Regions from separate parts of the Homo sapiens genome. Here region 2 is linked to region 1. A link means that fine-mapping ties the variant in region 1 to the expression of a gene that starts in the linked region. Tissue or cell type: whole blood. Region 1 holds a variant in brackets; the other region holds the start of a gene. All regions are shown on one strand. Distances are between the middles of the regions. Region 1 overlaps TAMM41 (TAM41 mitochondrial translocator assembly and maintenance homolog). Region 2 holds the start of TAMM41 (TAM41 mitochondrial translocator assembly and maintenance homolog).

The links.
Region 2: it holds the start of TAMM41, and the variant in region 1 is fine-mapped to the expression of TAMM41 in whole blood (TOPMed, PIP above 0.99). The same link has a PIP of 0.9 or more in aorta, blood mononuclear cells, cerebellar hemisphere, cerebellum, cerebral cortex and esophagus mucosa.

Annotation. Positions count from the first base shown.
Region 1 is chr3:11,803,765-11,812,102 of GRCh38, forward strand. It overlaps TAMM41 (TAM41 mitochondrial translocator assembly and maintenance homolog), which reads right to left. Exons shown (of 8, transcript NM_001284401.2): 6 at 5,753-5,918; 7 at 4,069-4,131. Among named protein-coding and RNA genes, the nearest start is that of TAMM41, 39 kb to the right of the region's middle. The variant A/C (reference allele first, on the strand shown) is at 4,569.
Region 2 is chr3:11,842,239-11,850,576 of GRCh38, forward strand. TAMM41 (TAM41 mitochondrial translocator assembly and maintenance homolog) reads right to left here and starts at 4,647. Exons shown (of 8, transcript NM_001284401.2): 1 at 4,264-4,647; 2 at 1,791-1,973. The coding sequence starts at 4,398.

The DNA of each region.
Region 1 (8,338 bases):
GAAATAATGTCTTTTGCAGCAAGATGGATAGAACTGGAGGCCACGTGTATAAGTGAAATAACTCAGAAACAGAAATTCAAGTATCACATGTTCTCACTTTAAGTGGGAGCTAAACAATGTGTATGCATGAGCATACAGAATAGAATGACACTGGTGACTATAAAAAGTGTGAGGGTGGGAGGAGATGAGGGTTGGAAAATTACCTATTGGGTACAATATTCACTATTTGGGTGATGATGGGTACACTAAAAGCCCAGACTTCACCATGTAAGAAAAATGCACTTGTATTCCTTAAACGTTTTAAAAATTAAAAAGAAAAAAAAGTGAAGGGGAAGCAAGCAGTAAGCACTCAGGGGAAGCAGCATCAGCACTCCAGGGCCACAAGGACAGCTGAGCTGTGGGTTCTGTGATCAACTGCCCTCTGCTGGTGAGTAGAAATAATGAGTGGAAAGAGGACCAAAGGCTCATTTCAGGTTGAAGGTGTCAAGAAGATCTTTTTCAGCCTTTTATTAGAGAAAAATTCAAACTTAAATAACAGACAGAAGAGTATAAAACAGCCCCATGCATCTTTACCTAGCTTTGACAATATATCAGCTCATGGCCAATCTTGTGTCATCTACCCATTACCCACTGCCCTCTGCCATGTTTTATTTTGAAGCAAATCCCAGACAACATATCATTGCATCTGGAATTATTTTAGTATGCATCTCTAAAAGAAAGGGAATTTTTTAAAAAGCTCCATAACACCACCATTGTCACAACTGAAAAATAATTAACAATAATTCTAATAATTCCAATAATTCCTTATAGCATGGGACGCCAACAACAAAACAAATCATTAAGCCTCACCCAAGGAGGATCATGGCAAGGGAAAGGCAATCATGCAAAATTCAGATTAACAGCATGAATCACCCAAACAAACAAAAGTACCTCATCTTCAGTCTTGCCAGAGTAAACTAGCAGGAACATAGATTAAATGAATATCTTAACTGGAAATGCAAAGCCATGCACCCAAATGGTAGGAAAATCTTTAGTTCAGCAGATGTGACACAAGTGCTACTAAGTCTTTGTTGAAACTTTTATACAATGTTTTTATTATTATAATTTTTTTTTTTTTTGAGACAGGGTCTCACTCTGTCACCCAGACTGAAGTGCAGTGGTGCGTTCTTAGCTCAATGCCGCCTCGACTTCCTGGGCTCAGGACTACGGGCGCGCACCACCACGCCCAGCCCTTTTTTTTTTTTTTTTTTTTTTTTTTTTGAGACGAAGTCTCACTCTCGCCCAGGCCAGAGGCAGTGGCACAATCTTGGCTCACTGCAACTTCCGCCTCCCAGGTTCAAGCAATTCTCCTGCCTCAGCCGCTCAAAGGTGGGACTACAGGCATGTGCCACCACGCCCAGCTAATTTTTTGTATTTTAGTAGAGACGGGGTTTCACCATGTTGCCCAGGCTGGTCTCAAACCCCTGAGCTCGGGCAATCTGCCTGTCTCGGCCTCCCAAAGTACTAGGATTACAGGCATGAGTCACCACATCCAGCCTATTTTTTCTATTTTTTTAGAGACAGGGTTCCACCATGTTGCCCAGGCTGATCTCAAACTCCAGGACTCAAGTGATCCTCCTGCCTTGGCCTCCCAAAGTGCTGGGATTATAGGTGTGAGCCACCGCATCTGGCCTATTTTTGTTATTTTTAAAGAGACAGGGTCTTGCTGTGTTGCCCAGACTGGTCTTGAACTCTTGAGCCCAAGCAATCCTCCCGCCCTGGCCTCCCAAAGTGCTGGGATTATAAGTGTGAGCCACCATGCCTGGCCTTGTTGAATCTTTCCAGTGATTCAGGAGGGCAACACGGTCCTTGAGGGCCAAATGCTCAGAGGAGTATCCAAGCAGCTGGGCTATGAGACACTGAGAGGTGTGACCATACCAGCTCCCCAGCAATCTCAAACCCAGGGATTAGAATTAGGTTGAAAGATCACTCCCCTTTTTGGGCTACCTCTGTGCTATTTCTCCCTCTCTTGCAAATTTCTGTTAGCATGTCTCTTTTCCCTTCTAAATTATACGCCTCTGCAAGTCAGTATAGCATTTGATATGGTTTGGCTCTGTGTTCCCACCCAAATCTTACCCTGAATTGTAATAATCCCCACGTCGTGGGAGGGACCTGGTGGGAGGTAATTGAATCACGAAGGCAGGTCTTTCCTGTGCTGTTTTCATAATAGTGAATAAGTGTTACGAGATCTGATGGTTCTATAAAAGGGAGCTCCCCTGCACATGCTCTCTTGCCTGCCGCCATGTAAGACATGATTTTGCTCCTCATTCACCTTCCGCCATGATTCTGAGACACCCCCAGCCATGTGGAACTGCTAATCAATTAAACCTCTTTCCTTTATAAATTACCCAGTCTGAGGTATGTCTTTATTAGCAGCATGAGAACAGACTAACGCAGCGTTGTGTTCACTTTTGTATCCCGAGCAGCTGGCACATGAGAGATGCTCAATGGATGCTTGCATGAAGAAAGCCTGAACTAGAAAAGTCTATCACTTGATGATGCCAAATGTTGGAAAAAATGGGAAGAAAAGAGTATTCTCCTACTCTGCTTGTGGGACGATGAACTGATACAGCCACTTTGTCCTCCAAAGAGATGTCAAATATTTAGGCCATAAAACAAGAATAGGATGCAAAAAACAGGAGCATTCAGAGAACAGCAAGAAAAGAGAGAGTTCCTGGAAATTATAAACACTCAACAGAAGGGTTGGAAGCTAAAGTTGAGAAATTCGAGAAAATCTTCCAAAGCAGAGCAAAAGAAAAACAGATAAAAAATAGAAGACAAAAGAAAGAAAACCAAAGACTAATCTAGGGGGTGCAATATCTGAATAAAAGGAGTTCCAGAAAGAGAACAGAGAAAACAGATGGGACAAAATTAAAGAAAAAATTTAAAACATTTTTCTTATATGCTTATATTCTGAGTTTCCCAACAGAAAGGGCAATGAATTCCCGGTAAAACAGATAAAACAGATAAAAACAGACTCACATCAAAGCACATCACTGAGAGAATTCAGAGCACTGGGGAAAAATAAAGACCTAACATGCTTCCAGAAATAACATACACAAAGGATTAAGAATCAGATTGGCTTTAGACATAGACAACAATCCTAGAAGTAAAAGATAAATGCAGCAATGATCTCAAAATTTTAAAGGAAAGTGATTTCTAATCAATACCCAGCCTAAGTATTAACTATGGGTGAAGACAGACAAAAAAGACTTTCAGACATACGTGGTCTCCAAATGTGCCTTCCATGTTCCCCTTCTCAGGAAATTACTGGAAAATGTGCTTCACCAAAATGAGAGTGTGCACCAAGCAAGTGAAAGACATGAGATACAGTAAATGGGGGACCCCCTAGAGGGGACAGCGAAGACACTCTCCATGAGAGAAGAACATTATGCAGGGAAGGAAAGGTGTACTCTGTGGCTCACCATACCATCAAACTGAAAACTAATTAGCCAAAACCACCAGACAACTATATTAGGAGGACAGAGGGATGGGAGGGTGCGTACATTTGATGAGGGTGGGTGCCAGAGTTGACTTCTAACCTCCCATAGAGAGAAGTCAATAGATGATACCTAAAGTTGAAACGTAGAGAAGGAGCAACGAAAACTTACCATTTAGAGAAATGGCAGTAACAACAAAAATAACCCACTAAGACAGATGGAAGCAGTTGTCTCAGAGAAGGGGAAGAGGAGGGGGAGCACAGATGCTGCTGTTTTTGCAATCCTATGCATCTGTAACTTTGATAAATAAAACAATATGAGGGAAAAACCCTGCACACAGGAAGTGTCTCAGAAAATTCAGAAGGGCAGTAAAGCTTCCAACAGCACTGCCAATGGTCTGACATTGTTCGACCACCAGGTTCTGCTGCTGTTATGCCTGTTTGTACCTTACTGCAATATCCCAGTTTATGGCCATCAAAGCTCAGCATTTCACAAGCACCTAAAAGATACAAAGCTTTACACTGTAACCAAGAGTGTGGAAGCCACTCAGTCAGCAGGTATGTTACACACGGATTTCCAAAGCTCTTACCAGCAGTAAAAATGCCTTTCGTGCTCTGTCTTATACTAGACGGTCTCACGATTGCTGAAAGCCCTGCGAGAAAAAAACCAAAAAGGAGACCAAAAAAACCCAAAACAGATGTTAGTCATCTTAACAGTTTTAAAACTTGAAACTAAATATTCTTTCTAGTCAGCCAATCAAACCACCAAATCTATCTCTGTCCTGCTGTCACAGTGACAATGAAAAGGGCAGTGGGATTGAGGGCCAGGAGACCAGAGCAGCCAGCCGTGGCGCCACCCGGCTGTGTGAGTCCAAGCCGATGACCGAACAGCTCTGTGCCTCTTCCCCTTAAAACAAGGGGATGGGTTAGCTGACCCTCAAAGGGCATTTTATGACTTAAATCTGCTTGAGATTTCTGGTTCTCAATTCCATAACATGAAAAGATAAAAACCAAATGATTACATCTACGAGAAAAACTTTCATTCTGAAAACACACATACGGATTCCACAGTGAGGAACAAGTTTCACTC[A/C]CCTCAAAGAGACGGCCCAGATCACACTGTTGCCAGGATCATGTTCAAACAAACAACAGTGTGCCTCGTACAGAGCTATCTTCAGGATGGGGAGCTGGTGACCTAAACACACACTCTGCAAACCTAGTGCAGGCCCAGGAGGAGAGTGGGCGTGGAGCGCCTGCTGCAGCTCATCCACTGCAGTGCGATGGTCTTTGCAAAGCATTACTGGAAATTCTATCTGGCACGCGGAGGAGCTCAGTAAATATTTACTGAATGAAAACAGGAGAATGCACTCAATTGACAGAGGGACTCATTCTCAATTTCATAAATATTTCTTGATTGACTGATCTCATAAATTACCTTTAGCACCTTAAAGGGAAGTTAGTCTCTGAAGATAAGGTTCAGGCTCTTTTTTTTGTTTGTTTTTTAAGAGATACGGGCTGCTCTATCACCAAGCCTGGAGTGTAGTGGTGCGATCCTAGCTCATTGCAGCCTCCAACTGCTCAAGCGATCCTCCCACCTCAGACTCCCAAGTTAGCTGAGATTATAGGCATGTGCCACCATGCCCAGCTACTTTTGTAATTTTTGCAGAGACAGGGTCTTGCTCTGTTGCCCAAGCTGGTCTCAAACTCCTGGCCTCAAGTGATTCTCCCTCCTGGACTTCCTAAAGTGTTGGGAGTACAGGCGTGAGCCACTGCACCTGGCCTGGGTTCAGAGTTTTGGATAAACATCAGGGCAGTGCTGGGGAAAATGCTGTGGAACGTGGGCCATGTCTGAGGGAATGTACTCAACAATGTATGAGACACATCAAATGGAGTTGATTGAGGAAAGCTGTGTTCTCGATGTTATAAAAGCACAAAAAAATGCCACCAATCTCTTTTCTCAGACCACCACAAAACACAGACACATCTTTTAAATAAATTCTAGAAGTTGTGCTCTAGGAACCAAAAGAAACATTGTTTCTCCCTTTGACAGTGATTTAGGATCCAGGAATTTAAAAACAGAAGTATTTTCACCATCTTACTTCAAACAAATAAAAATGCAGATTTAGAAAACCCTCAAATTTTTAGTGCTTTCTTCTTCTGAGAGGCAATCTCTCTATCTCGCTAAACAAAAAGGAAGAAATAATACATTCCAATCACAAACAAAGTCTGCTTTTCCCCATGGCTGGCATTTCCTCAACATCAAATTCATAAACGTACCTAGTCGCACCACATCTCCACAGTCGGGATCATGAGCCACTTGGAATAAAGTTTCTTCCACATCTCTGTTTTTTCCAGGAGGGTCCATAATATGATTTATCTGTTGCTGTAAGGTTTTGGGCAATGTCATCAGCTGAGTGAACTGTCCTTCTGGGCTTTTATCTATCTGAAGGGAGGAAAAAAAAGACGACGTCTATGGAAGTGCTTTAAATCCTACAAATACTCCAAAACTCAGGGCTTCTCTTTAAAAATCACACAAACATATATGCACCCACACCCCTGGCGAGGCAGCAAGCTAAGGAAACTCTCTTTTTCTGAAACTGAATGGGTAAGTGTTCAGGAGTCTAAGTCCCTTCAAAAAGGACAATTCTTGTCCTATAATATTCCATTTCTACCTGAGAAAAGAATAGAAGCCACTCTCAAGGATCAATTTCTGACTTTTGGTTTTAAAATTTATATTTGTCTTAAATCCAGCAGTCAAAGGAAGTGGTGCTGCAGTTGACACTCGTGGAGGCCGCGTCAAATCCAGGCACTGAGATGACCCCTCCCATTTCAAACACAGGGAGACTGGCGTGCCCTGATCACATCACCAATGAGAGTAAGTGGGATCTGAATTGTGTCTCCTGCCTGTAGGGCCTTTTAGTATGCTGTATTTCACAAACTGTAGGAATACACTGATGACAGAAACTAATCTTACTTACTTTTAATCCCCAGCACACAGTAGGTACTCAAAAAACAATAAGGAAATGAGTAACTGAATCAATACAACTTAGTTGTCCTAAAGCTACTATGCCAGCGGCTTCGGTTCCCAAAGTATTCTAAAACATACTAAGGTGCTGAAGATAAATATATAAATAAAACATGTAAAACTATGTGTCAGACTTTACTCAGAAACCCTTGAATCAAAAGTTAGCCACAGAGCTGAGGCCAGACCTAGCTTTCCTAACTCCAAGTTTCATACACTGTGCCTCGTGGAATGAATTTTTAAAAATCTTGTAAACATTGATTTCCTGCCAAGTGCAGAACCAGTAACACTGCCCTCAACAGCCCATCACATTATTTCCCAAGGAAGAATCTGTCTTGTATCCTTTTAACAAATATTTAGGTTTTAACTTCAACTAAGAGAAGAGTAAGAAAAAATCAGATCAATGTATTACATTTTAGGCTTAGAGTTTACAGATAGGACGAACTTTCTTAATAATTAGAATCCACTCATTCTACCATTTTTTAAATTGAATAAATATTTATTAAGTACATACCAAATGGGCCAGGAGCACAGGTTCACACCTGTAATCCCAACAGTTTGGGAGGCTGAGGCAGGAGAATTGCTTGAGCACAAAAATTCAACATCAGCCCTAGCAAAAGAGTGAGATATCCGGCTCTACGAAAAAAAAAAAGAAAACAAAAAAAAGCCAGACATGGTGGTGCAAGCCTACAGTTCTGTCTACTTGGGAGGCTGAGGTGGGAGGATCACTTGAGCCTGGGAAGTTGAGGCTACGATGAGTGGTGATTGTGCCACTGCACTACAGCCTGGGTGACAAGACCAAGATGGTATCAAAAAAAACAAAAAAGTATATACCAAATACCTGAATTTTCTAGTTTTGTCTATAAACTCTATGAAGAGAAGGAGAAAAATGTTATTATTTAATGGCTCCATAAAGCTAGAGGGGTAAATATTTAGGTTTTTATCTAAATATTTGATATTTATCACTAGGATGGTTCTAAATTCACAGGCCCCATCCTCTACTTAGCTTTGGCTACAAAAATGACAACAAATTTGAGTATTTATGTAAAATAATCTTAGAAATGACATTTATGGACTTATGTTTTGAGGCCACATATTGGGATTAGTTAGAATAAACTTATATTTAAGTTATGCTTTACCTATGAAGCTTCCAACGGCTTGAGTGACATATAAAAAAATTAGAAAGTACTTATCTGCCACTGCTTTCTCTTGAGGAAAATAATGCACTGGAATTTTCACTTGAAAGCATGAGTGTAAAGATAAAATACCAGGTGACATGATTTAAAAATTTGGTAAATTCTCATTTTCCTTACACTAACTCTCATTAAAATAACGAAAGTGAAAGCATTCAGCTAAACTGTGAAAGTCAAATTGCATTTTAAAAGCGGACATGGATACAATTATTATATGTCAACTTAAGAAAAAAGCAGATATGGAAAAAACTTTATATGATTCCATGCATATGAACTGTCCAGAACAGAAAAATTACAGAGACAGAAGTGGATTAGTGGTTGCCTGGGTGAGGGGAGAGCTGGGGACGGCTAAAGGGTATGGAGTGACAGAAATATTCTAAAATTACATTGTGGTGATGGCTGTGCAGCTCTGTGACTATACTATAAACACTAGCTTTTATGGTGTATGAGGTATTCATCAATAAAGCTAATATTTTGTTATTATTATTTTTGAGACAGAGTCTCGCTCTGTTGCCCAGGCTGGAGTGCAGTGGCGCGATCTCAGCTCGCTGCAACCTCCATCTCCTAGGCTCAAGTGATTCTCATGCCTCAGCCTCCCGAGTAGCTGGGATTACAGGCGCACACCACCATGCCTGGCTAATTTTTGTA
Region 2 (8,338 bases), 38 kb after region 1:
ATTAGCTGGACATGATTACAGTAGTGGGCTCTGTAATCCCAGCTACTCGGGAGGCTGAGGCAGGAGAATCGCTTGAACCTGGGAGGCGGAGGTTGCAGTGAGCAGAGATCGCACCATTGCACTCCAGCCTGGGCAACAAGAACAAAACTCCATCTCAAAAAAAAAAAAAAAAAAAGCAGAACCTTGGTGGGGCATGGTGGCTCACACCTGTAAATCCCAGTACTTTGGGAGGACTGTTTGGGGTCAGGAGTTCAAGACCAGCCTGGGCAACATGGCAAAACCCTGTCTCTACAAAAAATACAACAATTAGCCAGGCGTGGTGGTATGTGCCTGTAGCCCCAGCTACTTGGGAGGCTGAGACAGGTAGATGGCTTGAGCCCGGGAGGCAGAGATTGCAATGAGCGGAGATGGTGCCACTGCATTCTAGCCTGGGTGACAGAGCCAGACCCTGTTTCAAAAAAAGAAAAAGAAAAAAAAAAGGCAGAATCTCAGGTTCCATCTCAGACCAACTGAGTCAGGATCTGCACTGAAATGGGATCTCCAGGTGGCTCGATGCCGGCCAAAGCCTGACCGCCTTGAACAATGAGTGGCAGAGCTGGCACAGCAAGTGAAACCCATATGTCATCCCTGGCCCAGGGAAGCTCTAGGAAGCATCTGATTTAGACCCCTACTGATCCTTGCAGGCTGGGGTTCTGCCTAGGTCTTGACAGCTCTCTTGGAGACTGCGATGCTTCAGCTGAAAGACAGTTCAGCAAAGTTCCTGCTGTCAGATGAACCACCAGCAGGAATCCATGCAACTTACCTGCTCTCCAACAGCCCACTGTCAAATTCCACGCGTCTCCTGGCACCAAGAGGTTCCCGTCTATCACCTGACACACATGCTCTCAATCACCTGTGATATCCTCTTCACTTCCAACTTCTTCCTGGGGGTGTCTGCCCCTCCTTCTAGATAAAATCAATCTCCAACCTGACCCAAAATTGGCCTGCCTATTCCTCCCACTGACCAGACCAATGGTTCTAGACCAGCAGCTTCAGCACTGTTTGGAAGTGTGTTAAGAGATGCAAATCTTCAATCCCTACCCCAGACCTAGTGATCAGAACTCTGGGGGTGGGGCCCAGCAATCTGTGTGTCCAATGGACACACAACCTAGGGGATTCTGATGCACACTAAAACTTGAGAACCACTTGGCCAAAGACAAAAAAATAAAGTCAGTGTGGCCGGGCTCAGTGGCTCACGCCTGTAATCCCAGCACTTTGGGAGGCTGAGGCGGGCAGATCACCTGAGGTCAGGAGTTCGAGACCAGCCTGGCCAACATGGTGAAACCCTGTCTCTCCTACAAGGTGGCACACGCCTGTAATCCCAGCTAACTGGGAGGCTGAGGCGGGAGAATCACTTGAACCCGTGAGGCGGAGGTTGCAGTGAGCTGCGATCACACCACTGCACTCCAGCCTGGGCAACAAGAGCAAAACTCCGTCTCAAAAAAATAAAAAAAATAAAATAAGTCAGTCACACCCAACCACCTCCTCACACTGCAATGACAGTTAATGGGACATGAGGAAGGACTCCAGTCCCTGCTCTGTCCCCAAGTTCAAGACGTCTGGCAGGAGTGTGAATGTTTCCTGACTATAAGAATATACATACTATAAAAACATACATATTTCCCGACTATAACAACGTCCAGCAGGAGTGTGAATGTTTCCTGACCACAAGAACATACATATTTAGCTGGCACTCTAATAACCCAGGTAAATAACCAGCCAAGTTAAGACAAAGGCCAGCAGTCACTTACCCTACCATTACACATGATCAATGAATTGTAGTAAACTCCAGCGCCATAGTTATTCTGGATGGACGTGATAATCTTGGGCCCTAAAACTTTTAGGAAAGAGTAGTGACTCCAATTTTTCTTCAGGTTCTTTGAATGCCATGCGACAGGGTCATCTACTGTGAACACAAAGTCCAGCATAGCATTCTGTGGAGTGAAGAAAAGAGAATAATTTCAGTATTAATTCCTAGAAAGGCAGCAAGAGAGCATGGAAAAGCTCTAACATACTACGCAATTATGATCAATAGTCAGAAGGCCTGGTGCTGTCATCAGAAATGTGAGCGAGTCTCTGGAACAAATATGAGCTTTGTTTTCATCAATGTAATAATAGCAAACACTTCTTTAACATGTATTGTTGTGCCAGCACTCTTTAAACACTTTATGGGTAACATACGCAGTCACTCCATTTATCCTCAGCACAACCCTACAAGGTAGCTACTGCTATTATCTCAATTTTATAAGAAACCAAGGCACAGGGGATGCTCTTTGCCCAAGGACACAGAGCTTGTGAGTGGCAGACCTAAGAGGTCTGGCTCCAAACTGTGTGTGCTGAACCACTGCACTACACTGCCTTTCACAAATGTAGCTAAATGTGCTCCGCTTTTCTTCTGGATCAAATTAGCACCACCTGGATAAACTCTACAAAATACTATATAAAAGGAAGTCAGTTATTTTATCTCTTACCTATTCACCAACCACTTATTGAGTACATAAGTAATGAACTCTGACAGGCCCTAGGGTAGAAGTATAGAGCTCAGAGTCTACTGGAGAGAATAAACAAATTATCACTACATTGACTTGATAGAGGAATGCAAAATGTACTAACTGCACTCAGCATAGGGATCAGATCAGGGGCACAGGAGGGAGAAATTCTCCTAGAGATGACAAATCTGAGTCTTGAAGGACACGTGAGTTAAACAGACTTGCTGGAAGCACTGGGGGAAGCACAGGGAAGGGTAGGGAGCCGTGTTGGAGGAAAGTGCTCTGTGGATATGGGAGCCAGCATGTTCTGGAAGCTGCCGTCAGATATGACTGAAATAGAACACATTTATGCGGTGGGAGATGAGATCAGAGAGGGAGGCTGTTTGCCATGCTAGAAAATTTTCCTGCAGAAGAGCTGACTGGAGAGAAGAGGGACTAAGGGGGTGGGGGAATTAGATCTGAAGCCATGGCAAGATTCCAGGGGAGAAATGAAATTATATTAGCTAAGGCGCTAAGGATGGGGACTGATGTGAGAAAGATGTAGGTGTTGGAATCTACAACTTGTTCACTTGAATGTAAGGAATCAAAAGTGAGGGAATGGGAAGGAAGGACCTTTTCTTGCAGGGAATTCCAGGTCTATTCAAAGGAAAACCTCCATGGAAGAATGAAGAGGTGGCCATCAGGAGGCTAACGCCTGCTCTGTAGAGTGTGACTCTACAGACCACTGGGGACACTTGAGATTTGGTGGCGAGGCAGGTATGGAATAAACATGTTTTTTAAAAATGTGTAATTATGTTAAGGTAAATTCGGGAAAAATAACTAGCCTATAATAACCTATAATTTCTCATATGCTGCCAATTTAAAGAAAAATATTAAATAGTAGTGTAAGTGGGAAACAGAGGAAATCCAAGCAACAGCATAGATGGCCTCACCAGGAAGTGAACAGGCAGGATGTTAATCAGAAGACAGACTACAGTCAGGTATCCAGACGCAGGGGGCCCCATTAAAACCTGCACACTGAATTCTGCAAATTACAAGGAAAACTGTACCCTTACTGAGGCTGTGCTGAGCCAACTCTGAAAAGTAACAATGCCTAGTCTCAAACAGACCGTTGTTAAAAGTGCTGAGCGAGGGTAAATACACTGGTCACGCACTAACTTTTGATGTTAGTTACTTTCACTGCACCTGCCCTGGCCCTACAACCAGTCCGCCAACTTCCTGAAGTCAGAAGATCATTTTGCATTTTCTCCTACATTTATAGAGGTGACTCTCAACAAACTTGGCTGCGCATTAGAATCACCTGGGACGTTTCTTAAATTCCTGAAGCCCAGGCCTCATCCCAAACCAATTAAATCAGAATCTCCATCGGCGGAAGCCGAGCATTAGGATTTTCTTAAAAGCTCCCCAGAAAATTCCGATGTCCAGCCGACTAAAACACTGAAAGAACCTGATAACGATTTCTTTTCCTTTCTTCCATTTGCCCCTGCAGCAGTTTTTCCTTCTGCCTAACTGCTTCTCCTGCTCTAGACCCACGTGGATTCCTAAGTATCCTTCAACACCGTCGCTTCAACTCGCGCTGTCGTTATACTAGGAAGGCAGGCCTATGGTTCACTCTGCTAGTGGACACGTGGAGTGTGCAGAGCGGACAGGCAGCTCTCCGACTCTGAAGGAATCGAGGGCAAAACGGGACTCGTGAGAACAGACAGTTCCCCGTCGTGGGGCTGCCCGGGCTCACCTTCTGGTCTGAACTCGGCCCTGCCTGGCGGTACACCCCGGAGCCGTAGACGAAAGCCAGACTCAGCTCCTCGGGGAAGTGAGACAGGATCTTGCGGAAGGTCACCCACGAGCTCTGCAGCGTCTGCAGCGCCATGGGGTCGAGGCTAACAGGGGACACTCAGCGCAGCAGGGCGAGGACAACCGGGCGGGGAACAGACACCGGGTAGGCGGTTTAGGGTGGGAAATGGAAGTCGGAGACTGGATCGAGGGACACAAGGCTGAGTGTGGGGTGGGACTGCAAGCACACGCAAGGATTGGGGCGTTGGGCCACGAAGAGCAGCGGCGAGAAGACGCAGCCCAGATAGGCTCGGGTGGGCGGCGGTCGCACAGGCAGAGCTTCCGTCCCTTGCTACGCCCCACGCACGCACAGGCGCTTCCAAGACGCAAGAGGCGGTGCTCGCCTTAGTGTGGGGAACGCGAGGCTTTGCATTGTCCCCTCGTGGTCGGAGGAGTGCCCTACAGGCTGGCGGCTAGGTTGCGACTTGGACAAATCGGCGGAGGCGAGCGTCACCCGACTCCGCGGGCCCTGAGCCTTGATAGCCTCTGTACTTCTCTCTTCAAACTACGGTTTAAAGAATGACTATAAAATCGGGAGCGTATTGAAGGTTTTTAAGTGAGGCGACACTCACATAATATGGAACTAGCCGTTCTGAAATGGACAGTGTAGTAGCATGTAGTGCCTTCACAATATTGTGCCCCCATCATCGCTCTAGTTCCAAAATTGCAGATTTCGAAGATTTGGAAAAACACAAAATTAAAATGATGCCCAATCCCGCCATGTAGAGAATACCACCGTCAAGATTTGACGGAGACTTCTTCACGCTAAAGCCCTTTTCAAATACAAGGGTGGATATGGGAGTGCACAGACGTTCTCTGATACTTGCATTTAATTTCAAGGGTGGATCACAGTTTTTGCCCCCTTGCCTTGTGGAATGGTCTCACAAAGGGTGCTTCAAATGCAGTTTCTGGAGGAAACAGGACCCTAGGAGTAGAAAAATCTTACAGCTCTCCTCTTTGTATAACTGGAGAAACTTGCTGAAGATTACCATTCAGGAGGTGGTTTGACTTCCAGGACAGAAACTTTTTCAACTACCCTCTCCTTCCTCCCCAAAATACACTACCTCTCAAAAATAATAGAAATAGTAATAGCTAACATTCAGGTAATGTTGACACATTTTCACATGCACTTCTCACTGAGCACCCTCTAGTGCCCTGTGGCAGGAGGGCCTTGGTTTTACTGATGGCCAAGCTAAGGCTTAGAGAGGTAAAGCCAGGTGATAGGATCACATCAGCCTGTGGCAAAACTAGAGCTAAACCCAGGTCTGGCTCCAACTCTGGGATTTTTTCGGAAATTCTGCTCTGTCCTTGAAGGGTTTTGAGCAAGGACTTATGTAATTCACATGTTAGCCTGAATTGTGGGGGACTGATTAGACAGTTGTTATCATAGTTCCCCCATGAACTGGAAACGGCTAGGCCAAGGTCTTAGGAGCAGGGATGGGATTAAATCAATTGGAAAAATGATTACTTGCACTCACACTCTGGGCCTGCACTGAGATGAAGAGATCTGAGCTGCCTGCTGCCCTGCAGGAGCTAGGGGTCTGTAGAGGAGAGGAGACAGAACTGCAAATCAGAGTAGAATTTGGGTAATGCAGCCAGGTACCCAGCACAGTGCCGGAATGTAATGTCCCTCCAATGGGAACGTCAGTCAGTTCTGGGTGTTGGGGAAAGGGACCAGAAGAGGTTTCACAATGATGGCATTTTGAGCCAGGCCTGGAAGCTGGGTAGGAGTTTATCAGGTAGAAGATAGATGGGAAAATTCAACCAAGAAAGAATTGAAAGGACTCGGTGACAATAATACTAATAATAGGTGTCATTATTAAGCACTTAGTATGCCCAGGCACTTTTTAGACTTCTTTGGGGCTTTTCTGTTTTTGTTTTTTTTTTGAGACCGAGTCTTGCTCTGTTGCCCAGGCTGGAGTGCAGTGGCACGATCTCAGCTCACTGTGACCTCTGCCTCCTGGGTTCAAGCAAGCATGCCTGGCTAATTGTTGTATTTTTAGTAGAGATGGGGTTTCACTGTGTTGGCCAGGCTGGTCTCGAAATCCTGACCTCTAGTGATTTGCCCACCTCAGCCTCCCAAAGTGCTGGAATTACAGGCGTGAGCCACTGCACCCAGGCTTTTTATACTTGTTTCTTTTCATCACTCCAGAGATCCTATGAGGCAGGTTCTCTAAGATGATGATATTTTTCATACGAGGAAACAGAGGTCCTAAGAGGAGCAGTAAATGTTCCAAAGTCACACAGGAAAGTGGTGAAGTCGGGGTTTGAACCTAGGGCTACCTACCTCTAAAGGCCAAGGTCTTTACCACCATGTTTAAGTGTCCTCTACAGCGGCTTGCAGGGTGAGAGAAGGAAATGGGAAGAAAGCAGGCACTCAGGCATCAGCCAAGAGTCAGGAGCAGCAGCAGTAGCCGCAGCAACAAGCAGGAGACCAGGGCAAGGGAGCGGAGAGAGGCCGTTTGTCTGCGGCCCCTGGTGTGGGCATGGTCACTTCCGTTCATTTTTACTACATATCGCCCTTGCCCAGGGTGCCGGAATCAGAGTGCACTCACCGTGGAATTACACTGAAGCCTCTCACCCAAAGACAGTGAATAAATCTCATTACCAGCCGGTTCCTTTTTTATTTCCTTCCTTCCCTTGGGGAAATAATTCAACGTCATTGGATTTTTCCTGTTTGCAAAAGTAATCCATGTTCATAAAAATGTAAACATTATGAAATACATACATCATGCCCCAGAAATAGCCACGGTAATCTTTGGCACATATTCCTTCCAATATTTTTCTATGAATATATTAACATTAAAAACAATTTTAAGTGGATTCCTAGGATAGATACTATTTTGCAATTTGCTTTTTTTGCACTTAGCGTATCAGGGACAATGTTCTGTGTCAGAATATATAGATTTCCCTCATTCCATGTATTAGTAGCAAATTATTCTAAGATATGGATATGCCATAATTTTGTTTAAAATTTTTTGTTTAAAAGAAAGTGTTTAAACATTTTCTTTCTCTTTCTTTCTTTCTTCTTTTCTTTTGTTTCTTTCTTTTTTTTTTTTTTTTTTTGAGAGCGAGTCTTGCTCTGTCACCCAGGCTGGAGTGCAGTGGCACAATCTAGGCTCCCTGCAACCTCCACCATCCGGGTTGAAGTGATTCTCCTGCCTCAGCCTCCTGAGTAGCTGGGATTACAGGTGCCCGCCACCACATCTGGCTAAGTTTTGTATTTTTCGTAGAGACAGGGGTTTCACTATGTTGGCCAGGCTGGTCTCGAACTCCTGACCTCAAGTGATCCACCCGCCTCGGCCTCCCAAAGTGCTGGGGTTACAGGCATCCTGGCCTGTTTAAACATTTTATTGTTGATGGATGTAGGTTATTTCTAGTTTTCACACCTGCAAACAATGCTATCATGAGCATCCTTGTACATTTTATGTGCATGAACAAGTATTGCTATAAGACAGATTCCTAGAAGGGGAATTGCTGGGTCAGAGTGTCAGCACGCTGCTAAATTCCCCTCCAAAAGATGGTGCCAATTCACACACCCACCAGCAGAGTTCAGCCCTTGATAGAAATAAAGATGCTGCAATGTTTCTCCATTTGTCTCCCTTACAGGCGTTCACACCCAATTATCAGCAATTTTCATGTTCACAAACACTTTTCTTCCTGCAATGCAAAACCACCAGCTGGAAGGTTCCATCACATTCCTGTGTGCATTTTGCCTTTCCCCAGAAAGAGGCAGAAGCAACGTAGCCACGAACACATTTGTATTCTTCAGCAGAAATCTCCCTGCTCCTGGCCCTTCATCCACCCACTCTCTTTTAAATTACCATGGCTTGTGAAATTAGAGGCTATTAGGAAGACCCAGTGTTCTATATAATCGCTTTAGGGTTCTGTTGGAAAGCTTATACCAATGAAATAAACATGTTAGAGAGCCACTTACAAATATAGATAAATGCCTGGTGACTCGAGTGAATATTGGG